Linked DNA regions of Homo sapiens: region 2 is linked to region 1. The links come from fine-mapping of genetic effects on gene expression. Tissue or cell type: testis. Region 1 holds a variant in brackets; the other region holds the start of a gene. All regions are shown on one strand. Distances are between the middles of the regions.

Region 1 (8,382 bases):
CGTTCTCCTCCCCCCACTCAAGTAAACCTGGAGTTTGCACCTCAACACTGTCATCTCCACTTTCTCCTCCAACCCTAGGGTAGAACAGTCTATAATTTTTCTTTAGAGGTTTGCATTTCTATCCTTGGGGATTCTACCAAGAGAGTTTTCCATTGATATTGGCTTTCTGGTTGTTTTCACCAGTGTGAAGCAAAAGATGGGAGGCTCAGGAGCCAAAATTAGAATCCTGCCTCTGACTGTGTGACCTAGATTATAATCCCTCCTCCCGACCTGAGAGAACTGGCCACATGTTCTGCTCTCCTAGGCCCATGGAATTCCAGATAAAGCAGGCTGATTTGACTTGGTATCTAGGCCCCTTTACCTGAGAGCTGTGTGACCCTGAGACACTCTAGGGGTCTCTATTTCACCTATGCCAGTAATTATAGTATCTACCTCCAAGAGTTGTGAGACTTCAATGATATGTATGTAGAGCACTCTAGCCCAGGTCTAAAGAGAAAGGGATTAATAAGAAAGTCATGCTCACACAACCCACCCAGGAAAGGGTGTGTGGCAGGAGGAGCCTCAGCACTTGGCTTCCTGGAACCACTCTGTGATCATCACTCCAGCCAATGGAGATCCAGTGCCACTCTGTCTCACTGTCCCAGCACCTAGGGGTGAGTCATTCCTGTCATTTTTGAGAAATGGTGGTGATACTGGCATATTAAGATGATGGAGATAGTAACCCGATTTTTAGACATGAAAAGTAGCAAGTAAGATAGACTATAGAGATGTTCTGTGGCCTCCACATGCAAGGGGCTTCAGCAGAGCCACTGGGCCCTGCTTTCTTGGCTCCCTTGCCACACAGTGGGCCTGATTCTGAGCAAGTCCTTAGGGCTTTAGTTGGCTAAGACACTTGAACAATGTCCCATTTATCTTCACATGAAGGGAGAAGTAAACAACTCACAAAAGGAAGGTTTGATACCTTCATTCATAAATGAGGTGGTAGTACTCCCTTTGCCTGTATGTCAAGGGTGTTATGAGAATTAAATCAGATGTTGTTGGGTAATTTGCTTTGCAAGTCTCTCCACATATCAGAGATTGCCTTTTCACTTTTTCCGAATAGCAGCATTCAGTGTTCTGTCTTGTCATGAGGGTGGGGGAGTGGGAAGGACAAAGCACTGATCCCCTTTGGTGAGTATCACCCAGAGTACAGACATTGCAGAAAGATAAGAAGGCTTCTCTTTCTCCTCCAATACAATAAGGGACTTAATTTCTGCACCTTCAGACCCCTTTCCTATATCAGAACACTCTGGAGCTGAACCATACTTCAGATTAGACTTTATCTTCATTCAGCATCAGGATCTGTAGGGGGAGATGGCTTTCCTAGTGGCCAAAGGGGTCTGCTGCCCTGAGATCAGAGACCCTGTGCCCTGAGTCTCCTGCCACCTTAATTTCCATTCACAGCTGAAGGCCAGGCCAGTACCACCTTTGCTGAAGCTCAAGACCTATGTATGTTCTCTTGATTGTGTGTTGTCTCTCTGTAAAAAGAAGATATGACTCATCTCTTTGAAAACCAATTTATGCTTTCTCTTTGGGGAGAGGGATTGATATTAAAAGTGAAACTAGGATTTTCATTGGACAAATAATTTAATAAAGTTATATTTTTAACTTTAGTTAGATTCTGAATCAGGGGCAAAGGGAATACAAAGATGAACACAAGTCTTGGATTCTGGATTTTGTTACAGGATTTTAAGTGTAATCCTCAATTTGGGGGTGACTTGAGTTCCAGAAGCAATGGATGCTTTGAGAAAAGTGAGTGTGCTTGGCATTCATAGCCAATATTCATCTTCCAGGAGCTATAATTAATACAGGGCCTCTGTCCTGCTGGGGTGTCTGCTGTTCTAAGGCTGTGCTAGACACTGTCCTACCCAGGGAAAATGAAAAGGACTTTACTGCACAATCTACTGCCTCTAAGAATACCCTACCCAAGGTAATTTCAGAAAGGATTGCTGCCCAGCCTGCATTGACTCTGCACCAGCCTTGGAGGGCCTGCTCAGGGGGCAGAATAGCACAAACCATGTATTTGGCTTGGCTCAGCTTCCTGGTCACAGCAGCCAGGCTTGCACCTGCATTAAGGAATTCAGCCTTCTAACAAATCTATTCACTTTTTCAATATGCTTTAAAAAGAAAAAAGTTTGAAAAAACAAAACAAAAAAAGCACAAACTATATTTTATTGTGGCTTTTGGGATAAGGAGGGAATGTGGGGTGGGGTGAGGAGGTAATTTGCAGCCACCCTCACAAGTCCTTTTGAAGTTCTCCAAATAAGGAGAAGTAACGCTAAGTCTTTATTTTTTTCTAAAGCCCCATTTACATTATGATTAAATACCTTCCTTGGATGAGCATAAAGAAAGTCGTTAATCTATATAGCTCTCCAAAGAATCAATACATTCTAAACTTTTGTAGGATTTGTTACACTCTATTTTGTTACAGTAGGCCAGCTCCTCTCTGTCTAGGCACATGGCTTTCCTTCCCTCCTCCTCCCCACCTCCTCCAAGAATGAAAATAAAGTAAAGGTCTTTCATGGTAAACAAAACCAGCTGATTCTTCACAGAGAACCCCTGAATAGCTGGAGAAGAAAAAAAAAACTTACAATAAATGGTGCATTTTTTTCTCTGCTGGGTGTAGTATTCAAGGATCAGGGCAGTATTCAAACAGAGGTCCATTTTTTGCTCAGCAAGAGAGTTTAGAAAAGAAGCGTGGAGTCCATTCAGAGCTCTCCCCCCTTCACAATCGAAGGGCTCTATGAAACCTATCTTCCATGCCTTGTCAGAGTGTTTCTGGGGACCAATTAGTGCTTTGTTGTACGGCTTCTTTGCTGAATCTTTGAGCCGCAAGAAAAAGCGCTCTTGAGTCTCCCCTTATTTTGACCATTTCAGTCATTACTCAGTGTAATAATTAATATGACAACTGGACGCTGGAGTTTGTATAGAAACACCTCAGCTACAGGAGCAAGTGTGCAGTGGGTGGTAACGAGCCGCACATCAGCCGGAGAAGCCACACACACAAAAAAAGCAATGAATGGCAAGAGAGAAAGAGAAGGAATAAAGATAAAATAGTTGGCACAACGCAGGGGAACATAAAACAGACTCAAATGAGAAGAAGGAGGGGGAAGGGGGGACAATTTAAAGGGGAGGGGGAAAAATGCCCTACAGAGGTTAACTTATTTTGAAACTGTTTTCTGAATAGAACCGTGGACGTGAGTGACCGGATTTCAGCCCATCAAATCTCCCACCCCCACTTTGTGGATCCTCTTGGAACTCGGGGGTGGGGAAGAGGGCTCCAGCAAACTTTAGGTTCTCCCCAGGGTTCTTCTGGAAGGTGTACCCAACATGCTACTCAGCCCAATTCCCAACCCTTTGCACCAGGTTTGGCTTCTGTTTTTATTTTTGCAAAGTCTGTTCCTCTTGGCTCCAACTTCCGTCTTTGGAGTTGTTAATGGAGAAGTTAGGGTGCTATGTAGATTCACCAGGCGAGTTCAGTACTACTACCCTGGGGATGAATGTTGGTGAGAAGCCATTCCAGATAGACCCCCAACAACTCTGCTTCGTTGACCCTCAGAACAGTACCCTGTGGGACTCCTGAGCCGTAAGGAGTCTCCCTGGTAGCGCGCAGCGGGGCCAGGCTCTGTGCTCCGGCCCCCGTGCGGTGCCCAGCTCTGCAGGTTCCCGAAAGTGCGCCCCGGGGTGGGGTTGCAATCCGCCCCGTGACGGCATAATAAATAATTAGAGGGTTTAAGCGTGTTAGCCACAGCTCATGCTAATGAGCCAGATAAGGGCTCACGCTAACCCGAAGTGACAGTTTGCATATAGGAGGGAAGAAGAAAAAATCCTGCTTCCCCCCCCACGCACAAACTTGATTGCTCCTTCTCAAATTCATGTCCCCAAATCCCTTCCCCCATTCCTCGGACTTCCCTCTTCTCACATGCCCCCACTTCAGCCACAACACACACACTATCCGTTTTTGACCCTTCCTTTGCCTTTCACCGGGTCAGACGGCATTGTGACGTCACAAAACCCCTGGGTGCCTATATCTGACCTGCGCGGAAAGTTCATTCTGAGTGCGTCCTGGCGAGTCTCAGCCCCCAAGCGGGTGGAACGCACCAAGGGTCTCATCCGCGAGGAAGGGCTTTAACGCTCAGGGTCAGGAACCTCTGAGAGCTCTTGGGGACTTGCGCGCCCTTGGATGCTCTTGCGTTCAACAGGGCTAGGAGACTACCGGCTGGGGCGAGGAATGCAGGCGCCTAGAGCCTTGGAGCTCCTGAAACGTTCCTG[C/A]CGCCTCCGGAAAGCAAGGGCAGTTTACCGAAGTGACTGAGGTCAGTCGTGTGTCCCCATTGTGTGGCCACGTGTCCTGTGTCCATCACCACCTTCCCAAAGTCCAAGCTCAGCCCGACTCCTTGCGGTGCGGCCTGGGAATGCTCTGGCCTATAAATCAGCTTCGTGGCTGGAGCTGTCTCCACCACCGTGGCAAACCTGGACGCTGGCCCCGAGGGCAAAGGGAAAGTGTACTCCTAACAGATTCAGGAGGAAGCAGCCGCAGCCTGAGCGCGGCATCTGCCAGGGAAACTGTGCGCCCCAGGTCAGCTAGTTAACTATTTCATCCCTCCCCACCACTCTTCCCTAGGCCAAGTATTTGCAGCACGGGCAGGGACCAGTAACTGATTTTCAGGCCTTTTGAGAGGAAGAGGAAGAGAGAGGAAGAGAAGGATTTCTAATAGTAGATATTCACTCTCATGGACTCTTTAGGAAACAGCAACAAAGACAAGATTAAGTAAGTTGATATTTTTAAAATGCTGACAACAGTGCACATAGTAAACACTGGATATGTGTTAAATAAGTACAAACAGACAGAAATAGATAACAGGAGGTATATGCTAATCATCTAAGATGTTAGAAAATACTGTTCAGATCTAAAAATGATCAAGGCTGACATGCTCATTGATTCATCAAATAACTATGAAACCTAATCAGAGGGGAATAAGACACAATGAGTGCCTTCAATACATTTGTGACTTAGTAGACATTAAAGCAGATGTATAAGAAAGTCCATTAAAACATGCGGTGGGGGCAACCATGGAGAATCTTCTTCCCCATGGTCCCTTCTCTTTGGACTCCCACCTTCCTGCATCTCCCACCCCAAATAAATACACAATCTAGGTAAAAGTGGTGGACTTGTTATGCAAACACATCCTAATGTCATCCAGCCCCTCTTCCCCAACCAGATGGTCACCCCTAAGCTTCTCCTATATAACAATTCATGAGCAGACACTAATGATTTCAACATACACACACCCTTTGACACGTTACTGTTAGGTGCAATGAAAAGGCAAGTCACTTAAAGAGACAGATCCCAGAAAATCCTGAAACTTTCTACCTCTGTGACCTCTGGCAAGTTGCTCATCGTCTCTCAGGCTCTATAAAATGAGAGGGTTGAGTAAGATGCCTCCCCTCTGATTCTGACTAAATAGAGAATACAGGCGTGGACCACATGATCCTCTAGTGGCAACCATTCCTCTCTTTGAATAGACGAACTTGGTTTGCTGTTCTTCTCCCACTGCCCTCCTGCCATAAGAACCTTCATTAGGCAAATGATGTCATCAGTGAGACCAGTCCTTGCTGGTGCCAGGATTATGGCTCTTGGTAGCCAGAAGGCAATGTCATTGGGTCAGCATGACTTTAGCCCTGGGGACTAGGGCAAGAGATCGGCCATTGGCACCTCAGGATGCACATGCAAACGGATGAAACTCACCATTGTCGCCGACAGCATTGCTTGGGAAATAGGATTCTCCTCTACTCCTGGGCAGTTTTGGGTCTAGGAATTGGGACCCCGAGAAGCTGTAATTTCTGCGAGTTGTGTGGGTCGTTCGCCACCTGCCGGTTATTTCGCAAACTGCAGCTGGGACTGCGAACATTTGCAACTTGATTCATTCAGGACTACTTGATTCTATTCCATTAATTCTTCTCCATACAATTTGGTTCAACCATAGAGCATCGTGAGGACTTAATGACGTTCTCCCCTGATACTCCCATTAGAGATAACTGAGATGTTTGTTAATATTCAGATTCTGAAGCTTTATCCCAGACCCACCAAATCAGAATCTGGCAAATTGGCTCTTTTAGCAAGCTACCTGGAAGTCCTTTTGTATACTAAAGATAAAGAACTATTTCTCTAGAGGTATTCTGGGTGATAAGACAGTCTCCATTACTCAGACTCATGAAGAACTAATATATTCTGATAAAGAAGTTAAACTAGCCATGTAAATATGTTAATACTTTATTTGGGTAAGAGGATGCCCTAGTGACTTGAGGGGGAGGAGAGGCTCAGTAAGTTATTACAAAGATGGCCTTTGATACTGGCCCTGAAGAATGGTCAGAAACTTGCAGCGGGAAGAAAAGATCCACAGGAACAACCTACCCAGCCCCGGAGCCTTTCGCTTCCTTGACTTTCTCCACTCCAGTAGCCTTAACCTCCATTCCTCTTCAGCCACCCCTTGCAAGTCTGCATCTTGGGCTTTGTCTTTACCCAAAAGAGCCCCACTTTGGAAATCTTAACTTTCCATTCCCATATGTAGCCTCATCCTCTGATTCTTCCTCATCCTCACTTCTGCCCTACCTCTCTCCAACCTCCTTTCCTGAGCTCTATTTCTTCCAATCTGGTCTCCCCCCAACTCAGGAAAGTTTGATTGATTAACTCATAAACCTGTAACTTATAAAATGCGTACCTTCCCATCCTAAAAAAAAGGCTGATACACTCTCTGACCTTGTGACCACCTTCAGCCCTCTGACAAATTTTTTGAACATTAGTCAACACCCACAGTTTCATTTATTTCTTGCTCTTCCCTCTGGAGTACCCAGAGTGTGTCTGTGGGAATCTTTCTGGATGAGGGGGGCTGAGTAAAGATTGTGGGTAGGGCTCATCCAATCTGTTGAGGGACTGAGGATGAGTGAGGGAGAACTTACTCTCTCTACCTGTCTTGGAGCTGGGGCACTAGTCTTCTCCTAACTTTGGACTCAGACTCATACTGGAACTGTAGTCTGGGTCCACAGTTTGTCAACTGCAGATCTTGGGACTCAGCCTCCATAACCACACGAGCTAATTTCTTGAAATACATGTCCATCTACATCTAATTTCTTACTGGTTCTTTTTTCTGGAGAACCCAGACTAATACAGTCACCCCGACTCTATTTTGCTACACATAAAAGATAAATCAGGTCCTACTTTATTTGATCATCTCAATGCATCTGGCCCTGCTGATCACTCATCTCTTCTTGAGATTCTCTCCTCCTTTGACTACCATGGTTCTTATCCTTCTGATCCTTTGTTTCTCAGTACTTAGTTTTTTTAGTTTCTCATCCCCAGTGTCAAGTTCCTTGATGACATATGCTGCCCTTAGAGTTTAGCTTCCACCTCTTCTGCTGATGACTCTCAAATTCTTGGTTCTGGACTGACCTCCCTGGGATCTGAAACTGGTGTGACCAACATTGCTACTGGAATATTCCATGGATGTATCAAGGGCAACATATTTGAAACTGAGATCATGCTTATTCCCTCAACTCGTTCCCTCCTTTTGTGTTCTATATTTCAGGGTTTAGCACCATCTGCCCACACAGTCAAACCAAAATCCTGGGGTCATGCCATACTCTCACCACTCTCTCACAGGCACTCCACAACCACCAAGTCTTAACAATTATACACACACACAGACACACACACACATATACACACACAAACACACACATTTAGTATGTATATAATATAAACAAATGTACATAATGAAAAATCCATCTGAATTTAAATCATTTTCTTCCTCCCTATTACTATATCATTGCTTTACTTCAGTATTGTCCCAGCTGGTATTCATGCTTTTAGTTTAATCTCCCTCAAATACTTTTTCTTCACTGCCACCAGAATGATCTAACTAAATGTCACAGTCACACGTATAAAAGGCATCAGAACATAAAAAAATGGAACTTTATATTACAGCCCCAGACAAAGAGATCTTTACAAAGTATCACATACCCTATTGCTCCTCTACAAAACCTTTCAGAACAGGGGAACAGGATGGCTGAATAGAAGCCTTCACCTATCATTCTCCCCACAGGAACACCAAATTGTGTGACTATCCACACAAAAAAGCATCTTCATAAGAACCAAAAATCAGGTAAGCCATCACAGTACGCTATTTTAGTTTTATATCACTGAAAGGGACACCTAAGAAGGTAGAAAAGACAGTCTTGAATTGCTGATGCAACTCCTCCCCCATCACCCCAACACTCCAGCAGCAGTGGACGCATGGCATGGACAGAGAATCTGTGTGCTTCGGTAAGGGACAGCAAAGGGATTGT
Region 2 (8,000 bases), 33 kb after region 1:
CTGGCAACAGAGCGAGACTTCATCTCAAAAAAAAAAAAAAAAAGGCAAGATTTAGAATCATGTATAGTATGCTACTATTTGTGTAAGAAAAGGAGGGAAGGAATATATGCATATACACTATCATAAATATTTGCTTAAAGATCTCTAGAAGAAACTGACAACATTGGTTATCTTTGGAGAAGAGAATCAGGTGCCTGATGAACAGGGGAATGTGAAATAATTTTCACTAGGTTTTATATTTTGATGTTTGAGCCATATGAGTGCTCACCTCCTCAAAAATAAATGAAAAAAGTTATATCTAAAAGGAAAAAATTATATAACTTGGAGCAAAAAAATAAAAATACAGCAAAAAAATTAAAATATAAGGGATAACTTTCAAATCAGAGAAAGAAAATTTGATCTATATATCTAGCGGAAAGTTAAAATAGGCTCTATGGTGAGAAAATCCCAAAAGACAATTGATTGTGGGATTGGCCTCTTTAAGTTAAGTGGTATTACCTGGACTGTGGGACCATGTTGAAAAGCCTCTAAGAAATCCCCAAGGCATGTACAGGTATATCTACAATGCAGGTAGATTAAAGATCTAGCTATGATAGATCTAGATGCTAGAGAGAAGAGCACCTCTTTGGAACTTTGGGATGGGGAAGGACTTCTTAAACAATACTCTATAGTACAAACCACAAAAATTTTTAAAAGGATGGACTTGTTATTTCAAAATTACTTGTTTTATTGTTTAATCAAGGAAGGACACCAGTTGACAATTAACTGACAGTGACACATTGGGAGGCAATGTGTTCAGTGACTGAGAAGGGCACAGAGCTAATATTTGGACACAGAGCTAACAGAAATTATTGCAACAAATCTACAAGACAGGAATCCTAGTAGAAAATGGGTAGAAAATATGATGATAAACTATTCATAGCATGGGAAATCTAAGAGGTATAAGTATATAAAGAGATGCTCAAACTCATGAGTTATGAGAGAAATTCAAATTAAAAACAACAAGACACCAGCTTATGCTGATCAGATTGGCAAAAATTCTGACCTTTGGAGAATACCACATATTAGGTATACCCACCAATAGGAACTCTTTTGCCTGCTGGTTGGTGTGTAGACTGGTCCAAGCCACTCTAAAGGGCAATCTGGCAGCACTTTGTGAAATTAAGAGTGCATGTTCCCTATGATTCATAATAGCACCACTCTTCTATCCCAGAAAATTTCTACCCCAGGCCTATAAGGGAAGAAAGATAAGGAAATTTATCACAGTATTGTTTGGGGTGGTGAAAAATTAGCAATGACTTAGATGTCCATAACTGGAAAATAAAGAAGTCAAGTGTGGCAAATACACACTGGGATATTCTGAACCATTTAGAAAAGCAAAGAACTAGATACATATTCAGCAGCATGGCTGGATCCTAAGAACACAGTTGAAAGAAAAAAGAAACTATGAAATCTATAGTACATCCATAGATTGTAGTAAATCTATAGTGCCACATCACATATCCATGAAAAATACATATACGCACAAACATTTCTATGTATTTTACAAGTTCAAGGCTAAACATCATATTAGAGAAGTTGCCTCTGGGGAAAGGCAGTGAGAGTGAGGAATTATGATAAAAGAGAATGAATAAAAAAACAAGAGAAGGGTCATGTAGGTTTTGTTTCTGTGCCATGAACTCATGGATTATGATTAACTCAACCTTCTGCACATGAAGATAAACAAGAAAGAACTGATAAACCTGCAATGGTTGGGTAATCTTCAACTTCCAAATCAGCAAAGGTCAGCTCTAAGTTTGCCAAGTACACAACTTCTCATCTTGTGACATGTTCCCCACCTCTGTGCAGTGTTAAAAAATACCTCAGTGGTCTACTGACTGACTGTGGATGCTTCTTCTAGATGTGCCTTTTTTTCCTCCATTTCCTTAGCACCCAGCACTGCTCTCATTATAGCAGCACATTGCATTCCAACCAAATTGAACAAAAAGGTGGCTTAAAAATCATCTGCAAGTTTATGGCACAAGCAATCTCTTATTTTTATCTTAGTGCATAAATAAATTTTTCCTTTTTGCCAGAATAATTTTTTTTAAAGAAGCGATTAGTTTTTCTTCTCTCAGATAGCAATGATGTGCTTTCCTCTCAACCTAGATTTAGGGCATTTTTATGTGAGATAGGATTAAAAATTCCATTTTTGTACAACCACTATGGAGAACAGTTTGGCAGTTCCCCAAAAAACTAAAAATAGAGCTACTATATGATCTAGTGATCCCACTGCTGGGTATATACCTATAAGAAAGGAAATCAGTATATCAAAGAGATGTCTGTTCTTTTATGTTTGTTGCAGCACTGTTCACAATAGCCAAGATCTGGAAGCAACCCAAGTCTCCATCAACATGGGTTTTAAAAAAATGTGGTACTTTAATACACAATGGAGTACTATTCAGCAATAAAAAAGAATGAGATCCTGTTATTTGCAATAACATGGACAGAACTGGAGGTCATTATGTCAAATGAAATAAGCCAGGCACAGAAAGCCAAACATCACATATTCTCACTCATATGTGGGGTCTAAAAATCAAAACAATCTGATTCATGGAGCTAGAGAGTAGAGAGCTAATTACCAGAGGTGGGGAAGGGTAGTAGGGGCCTGGAGGGGAGGTGGAGATGGTTAATAGGTACAAAAAAATATAGAAAGAATGAATAAGACCTAGTATTTGATAGTACAACAGGGCGAATATAGTCAAAATAATTTAATTATACATTTAAAAATACCTGAAAGAGTATAATTGGCTTGTTTGCAACACAAAAGATAAATGCTTGAGGGGATGGATGCCCCATTTTCAATGATGTGATTATTACACATTGCATGCCTGTATCAAAATATTGCACATACTCCATGAATGCATACATCTACTATGTTCCCACAAAAATTAAACATTAGAAAAAAGAGTTGCATTTTCAGCTGTTATGGGGAGAAGAAAGAAAAGCTATCATTTTGTTGTCCTAAAAATTATGTTGTCCTCATTTCAAACAGGAAAGCAAAAGTATTTGAGAGCCAGTGCAGTGCCTTGGTGTTGGGTGAAACATAGATTGAATTTGGGCCATTTGTTTAAACTTCCTAGGCCTCAGTTTCTTGCCTATTAAAAGGGAGTGCATAGTTCATGGGATTGTTAAGAGGAAGAAGTGAAACCATGCACGTGGAGAGCGTGGCACAGTGTCTAAGACAGAGTGTGCATGCAAATAAGTAGATAATATTCTTTGCTTTTCTTTATTGCATGCCTGTAATATTTTTGGAGTTGTCACATTCATTGCCCTCAAGTAGCATCAAGGGATGAAATTATGTTTGTAAGAAAATCCTGAGGCTGAGGAATACAACATGTTTTATGTCTACTACACTGAAAAATGCCGGAGTCAGATAAAGAATACAGATTCTCCTGAGGATGGAAATCAAGATCTTCGCCTTCAATATTTAACAACATTGAGCTTCCAACTTACTATGGGAAATATTCATCAGGCCCCTAAAGGTTCCTTTTGGACAGAAATTGCACTTGTTATATCTGTATTCTTAGCAGACAGTAGACAGCCTGGCACATCATAAAGGCTTAAGGAATCCTAAATATCCCTTAAAATTCTCATTTTAAAGACAAAAACAAAACAAAAAAAAAAAACAAAAAAAAACTGAGGCATGGGCTTGACCAAATCAGTGGTAGAACCAAGAGTTAAACCACTTGTTTTGAATCCTAAACCTGAGTTTTATTTTACTTATTTATTTATTTATTTGTTTATTTATTTTCAGATGCTTGGTCAAAGAACAGTGGGAGGAGAGGGATGGGCTTCCAGCAACCTTTATTATTGGCTTATTTTCTTACAGCCCATTACTTTCTCTTGGGAAAATATTAAGCAGGCACTCAAGGCTTGAGGCCCCTGAGTTTTCACATCCTTTCTGAACCTCTGAACCTGCTTTCCAGCATTCTTTTATACTTTGTTTTACCTCCTGGTCAGTAATGCCTCACCCTCAGTCTTCTCTAAAAGTGTGGTTAATGGCATCTTCCTGACTATTTGAAGACCACTGGCCAAATCCCACCAGCTCACTCATAGACCATCCCCCTACTTTACTTTCTTCAAAAGACTTAGCCCTACCTAAACTTATTTATATGTTTATTTTCTGCCCACCAGAATGGCAGCATAGCTGGGGAGGCAGAGTCTGTTTTGTTCATTGCTGTATTCCCAAAGACTAGAACACCACCAAGCACACGGTACAGGTCTCAGTAATTATTGTCAAATTTATGTGGATTTGCTTTTAAACAATATCTTCCATTTACTGAGTGTTTATGTGGAAGAACTGTACTAAATTTTAATGCATTTCTTTATTCCTATTCTTAAAACCTTCCAGCAAGGTGGCTCTACCACCCTCTTTTCCGAGCTTCAGGAGCAGTTGTGCGAATAGCTGGAGAACACCAGGCTGGATTTAAACCCAGATCGCTCTTACATTTGCTCTTTACCTGCTGTGCTCAGCGTTCACGTGCCCTCTAGCTGTAGTTTTCTGAAGTCAGCGCACAGCAAGGCAGTGTGCTTAGAGGTTAACAGAAGGGAAAACAACAACAACAAAAATCTAAATGAGAATCCTGACTGTTTCAGCTGGGGGTAAGGGGGGCGGATTATTCATATAATTGTTATACCAGACGGTCGCAGGCTTAGTCCAATTGCAGAGAACTCGCTTCCCAGGCTTCTGAGAGTCCCGGAAGTGCCTAAACCTGTCTAATCGACGGGGCTTGGGTGGCCCGTCGCTCCCTGGCTTCTTCCCTTTACCCAGGGCGGGCAGCGAAGTGGTGCCTCCTGCGTCCCCCACACCCTCCCTCAGCCCCTCCCCTCCGGCCCGTCCTGGGCAGGTGACCTGGAGCATCCGGCAGGCTGCCCTGGCCTCCTGCGTCAGGACAACGCCCACGAGGGGCGTTACTGTGCGGAGATGCACCACGCAAGAGACACCCTTTGTAACTCTCTTCTCCTCCCTAGTGCGAGGTTAAAACCTTCAGCCCCACGTGCTGTTTGCAAACCTGCCTGTACCTGAGGCCCTAAAAAGCCAGAGACCTCACTCCCGGGGAGCCAGCATGTCCACTGCGGTCCTGGAAAACCCAGGCTTGGGCAGGAAACTCTCTGACTTTGGACAGGTGAGCCACGGCAGCCTGAGCTGCTCAGTTAGGGGAATTTGGGCCTCCAGAGAAAGAGATCCGAAGACTGCTGGTGCTTCCTGGTTTCATAAGCTCAGTAAGAAGTCTGAATTCGTTGGAAGCTGATGAGAATATCCAGGAAGTCAACAGACAAATGTCCTCAACAATTGTTTCTAAGTAGGAGAACATCTGTCCTCGGTGGCTTTCACAGGAATGAATGACCATTGCTTTAGGGGGTTGGGGATCTGGCCTCCAGAACTGCCACCAATTAGCTGTGTGTCTTTGGACAAGTTACTGTCCCTCTCTGTTGTCTGTTTACTCTTCTGTACACTGAAGGGGCTGGTCCCTAATGATCTGGGATGGGATGTGGAATCCTTCTAGATTTCTTTTGTAATATTTATAAAGTGCTCTCAGCAAGGTATCAAAATGGCAAAATTGTGAGTAACTATCCTCCTTTCATTTTGGGAAGAAGATGAGGCATGAAGAGAATTCAGACAGAAACTTACTCAGACCAGGGGAGGCAGAAACTAAGCAGAGAGGAAAATGACCAAGAGTTAGCCCTGGGCATGGAATGTGAAAGAACCCTAAACGTGACTTGGAAATAATGCCCAAGGTATATTCCATTCTCCGGGATTTGTTGGCATTTTCTTGAGGTGAAGAATTGCAGAATACATTCTTTAATGTGACCTACATATTTACCCATGGGAGGAAGTCTGCTCCTGGACTCTTGAGATTCAGTCATAAAGCCCAGGCCAGGGAAATAATGTAAGTCTGCAGGCCCCTGTCATCAGTAGGATTAGGGAGAAGAGTTCTCAGTAGAAAACAGGGAGGCTGGAGAGAAAAGAATGGTTAATGTTAACGTTAATATAACTAGAAAGACTGCAGAACTTAGGACTGATTTTTATTTGAATCCTTAAAAAAAAAAATTTCTTATGAAAATAGTACATGGCTCTTAGGAGACAGAACTTATTGTACAGAGGAACAGCGTGAGAGTCAGAGTGATCCCAGAACAGGTCCTGGCTCCATCCTGCACATAGTTTTGGTGCTGCTGGCAATACGGTCCCCACAACTGTGGGAAGGGGTTAGGGGCAGGGATCTCATCAGGAAAGCATAGGGGTTTAAAGTTCTTTATAGAGCACTTAGAAGATTGAGAATCCACAAATTATATTAATAACAAACAAAGTAGTGTCGTGTTATATAGTAAATGTGAATTTGCAGACACATTTAGGGAAAAGTTATAATTAAAAAAATAGGCTGTATATATATCAATGGTTCCAAAATTTTCTATGGTTAAGAATCACCTGGGATGGTTTTGAAATGGCAGATTCTAAGACAACTTGATTCAACAGGTTTAGGTAAAGCCCAGGGAACTGCATTATAAGAAGGAATCACCTGTAATTTTGGAGTCAAGATCCAAGGAACACTCATTGAGAAACACTGATTTACAAAGTGCATGGAGAGAAATGGAGCAAGTGAAGGGGGATCAGCATGGTGAAATATAGGCTGTTAGGAGTGCTATTGACTAACTGTCTGGTGACTGGACCAGAGTAAATCTTTTACTTTGCAAGAAACAGGACTAAATTCCCATATTATGTCCATAGCAAAGGGAATTATGTAGAAAAATTGATAATTAGGAGCCTGAGTTCTTGACCAGCCTCCACTACCTATGTGGCCTCAGGTGAGTTATTTTCTCCCTTTGGCTCTAAGTTTTCCCCATCTGTAATGTAAGGGAGTTTAACTAGATGAGCACTAAGGACAAATCAATTTCTGTGAGTCAATTATTATGAAATACCATGTGGGCATCAAATGCCAAGTGGAAAGCATAGATAAAGAAGTGATTGTGCACCTGGGCTGAGGGGAACAAACATTTCCTAAGAGAATTGAGACCCAAAAGAGCCTTTAAGGAAGGTGAGATCTTGGAAAGGGAAATTTGGTGAATACTCTAATGAGGAGCTAAAAAGGCAAGAAAGAAAGCAGCTTGGCTGGAAAGGAGGTTCCTGTAGGTGGGCCTCCAGAGATTCGGTACCACAGAAACTGCCAAACATCAGCAAGAAGCCATGGGGATGGAGCGTTTGAGGGATTCTAAATAGAAGGACAAGAGTAAAAATGTCAGGCTGGATCGATGCAGGCCACTAAGAAATGGATTCAGGTGATGGCAGTGGGAAGAAAGGACCTGATGCCCAGAGGCATTTCTGGAGAAGATGAGATCAGACTTGTGATTGGCTGAACACACACTGTAGTGGGGTGGGGTTTAGGGGGTGACTCAACTTCAAGCCCAGGTACATTCAAGTCTGAATTGCCCTAGTCAAAAGTGGCATCTGTGGATGTGTATCAGAAATATCTTACTTTTCTTGGAAGCCAACAGGAGAAAAGAGTGCTACCAAGTGAACTAGAGACAGGAATATCTTTTGTCATTTCAAGGAAACTGGAAAGAAGAAGGCTCAGTATTCTTTAGTAGGAAGAAGACTTAAGTCAGAGACTCATCTGTACCTCTCTGGCAGGGTTTAAAAGGGGGAAGAGGAATAGAGGCTGCAAGAGATTGTGATTCATGGACAGTATGCAGAGATCAAATGACCTGGGTTCAGATCCTGGCTCCACTGCTAACTGTGTAACTATAGGCAAGTTCCTTAACCTCTCTAAGCCTTAATCTTGTCATCAATAAAAGGGGGCACTTGGTGCCTAATAAAACCTACCTCTTAGGTTGTTGCCAAATTACATGAGATAATCCAAATCAAGTGCTTATTATAATACCCAGAAATTATAGGCTCTAAATAAATGTTTATATAGGCTCTAAATAAATGAAGTTTTTTAGAAAGATAACATCATGATCAA

What was found. PIP is the estimated chance that this variant, and not a neighbour inherited with it, causes the effect.
Region 2: it holds the start of PAH, and the variant in region 1 is fine-mapped to the expression of PAH in testis (GTEx, PIP above 0.99).

What each region holds. Positions count from the first base shown.
Region 1 is chr12:102,946,559-102,954,940 of GRCh38, reverse strand. It overlaps LOC112267865 (a long non-coding RNA gene), which reads left to right and starts at 4,096. Exons shown (of 4, transcript XR_945280.3): 1 at 4,096-4,352; 2 at 4,661-4,807; 3 at 8,139-8,198. It also overlaps a transcript of PAH not described here. RefSeq lists enhancers at 2,039-3,452, 4,061-4,988. The variant C/A (reference allele first, on the strand shown) is at 4,312.
Region 2 is chr12:102,914,239-102,922,238 of GRCh38, reverse strand. It overlaps PAH (phenylalanine hydroxylase), which reads left to right and starts at 4,995. Exons shown (of 13, transcript NM_000277.3): 1 at 4,995-5,168. The coding sequence starts at 5,109.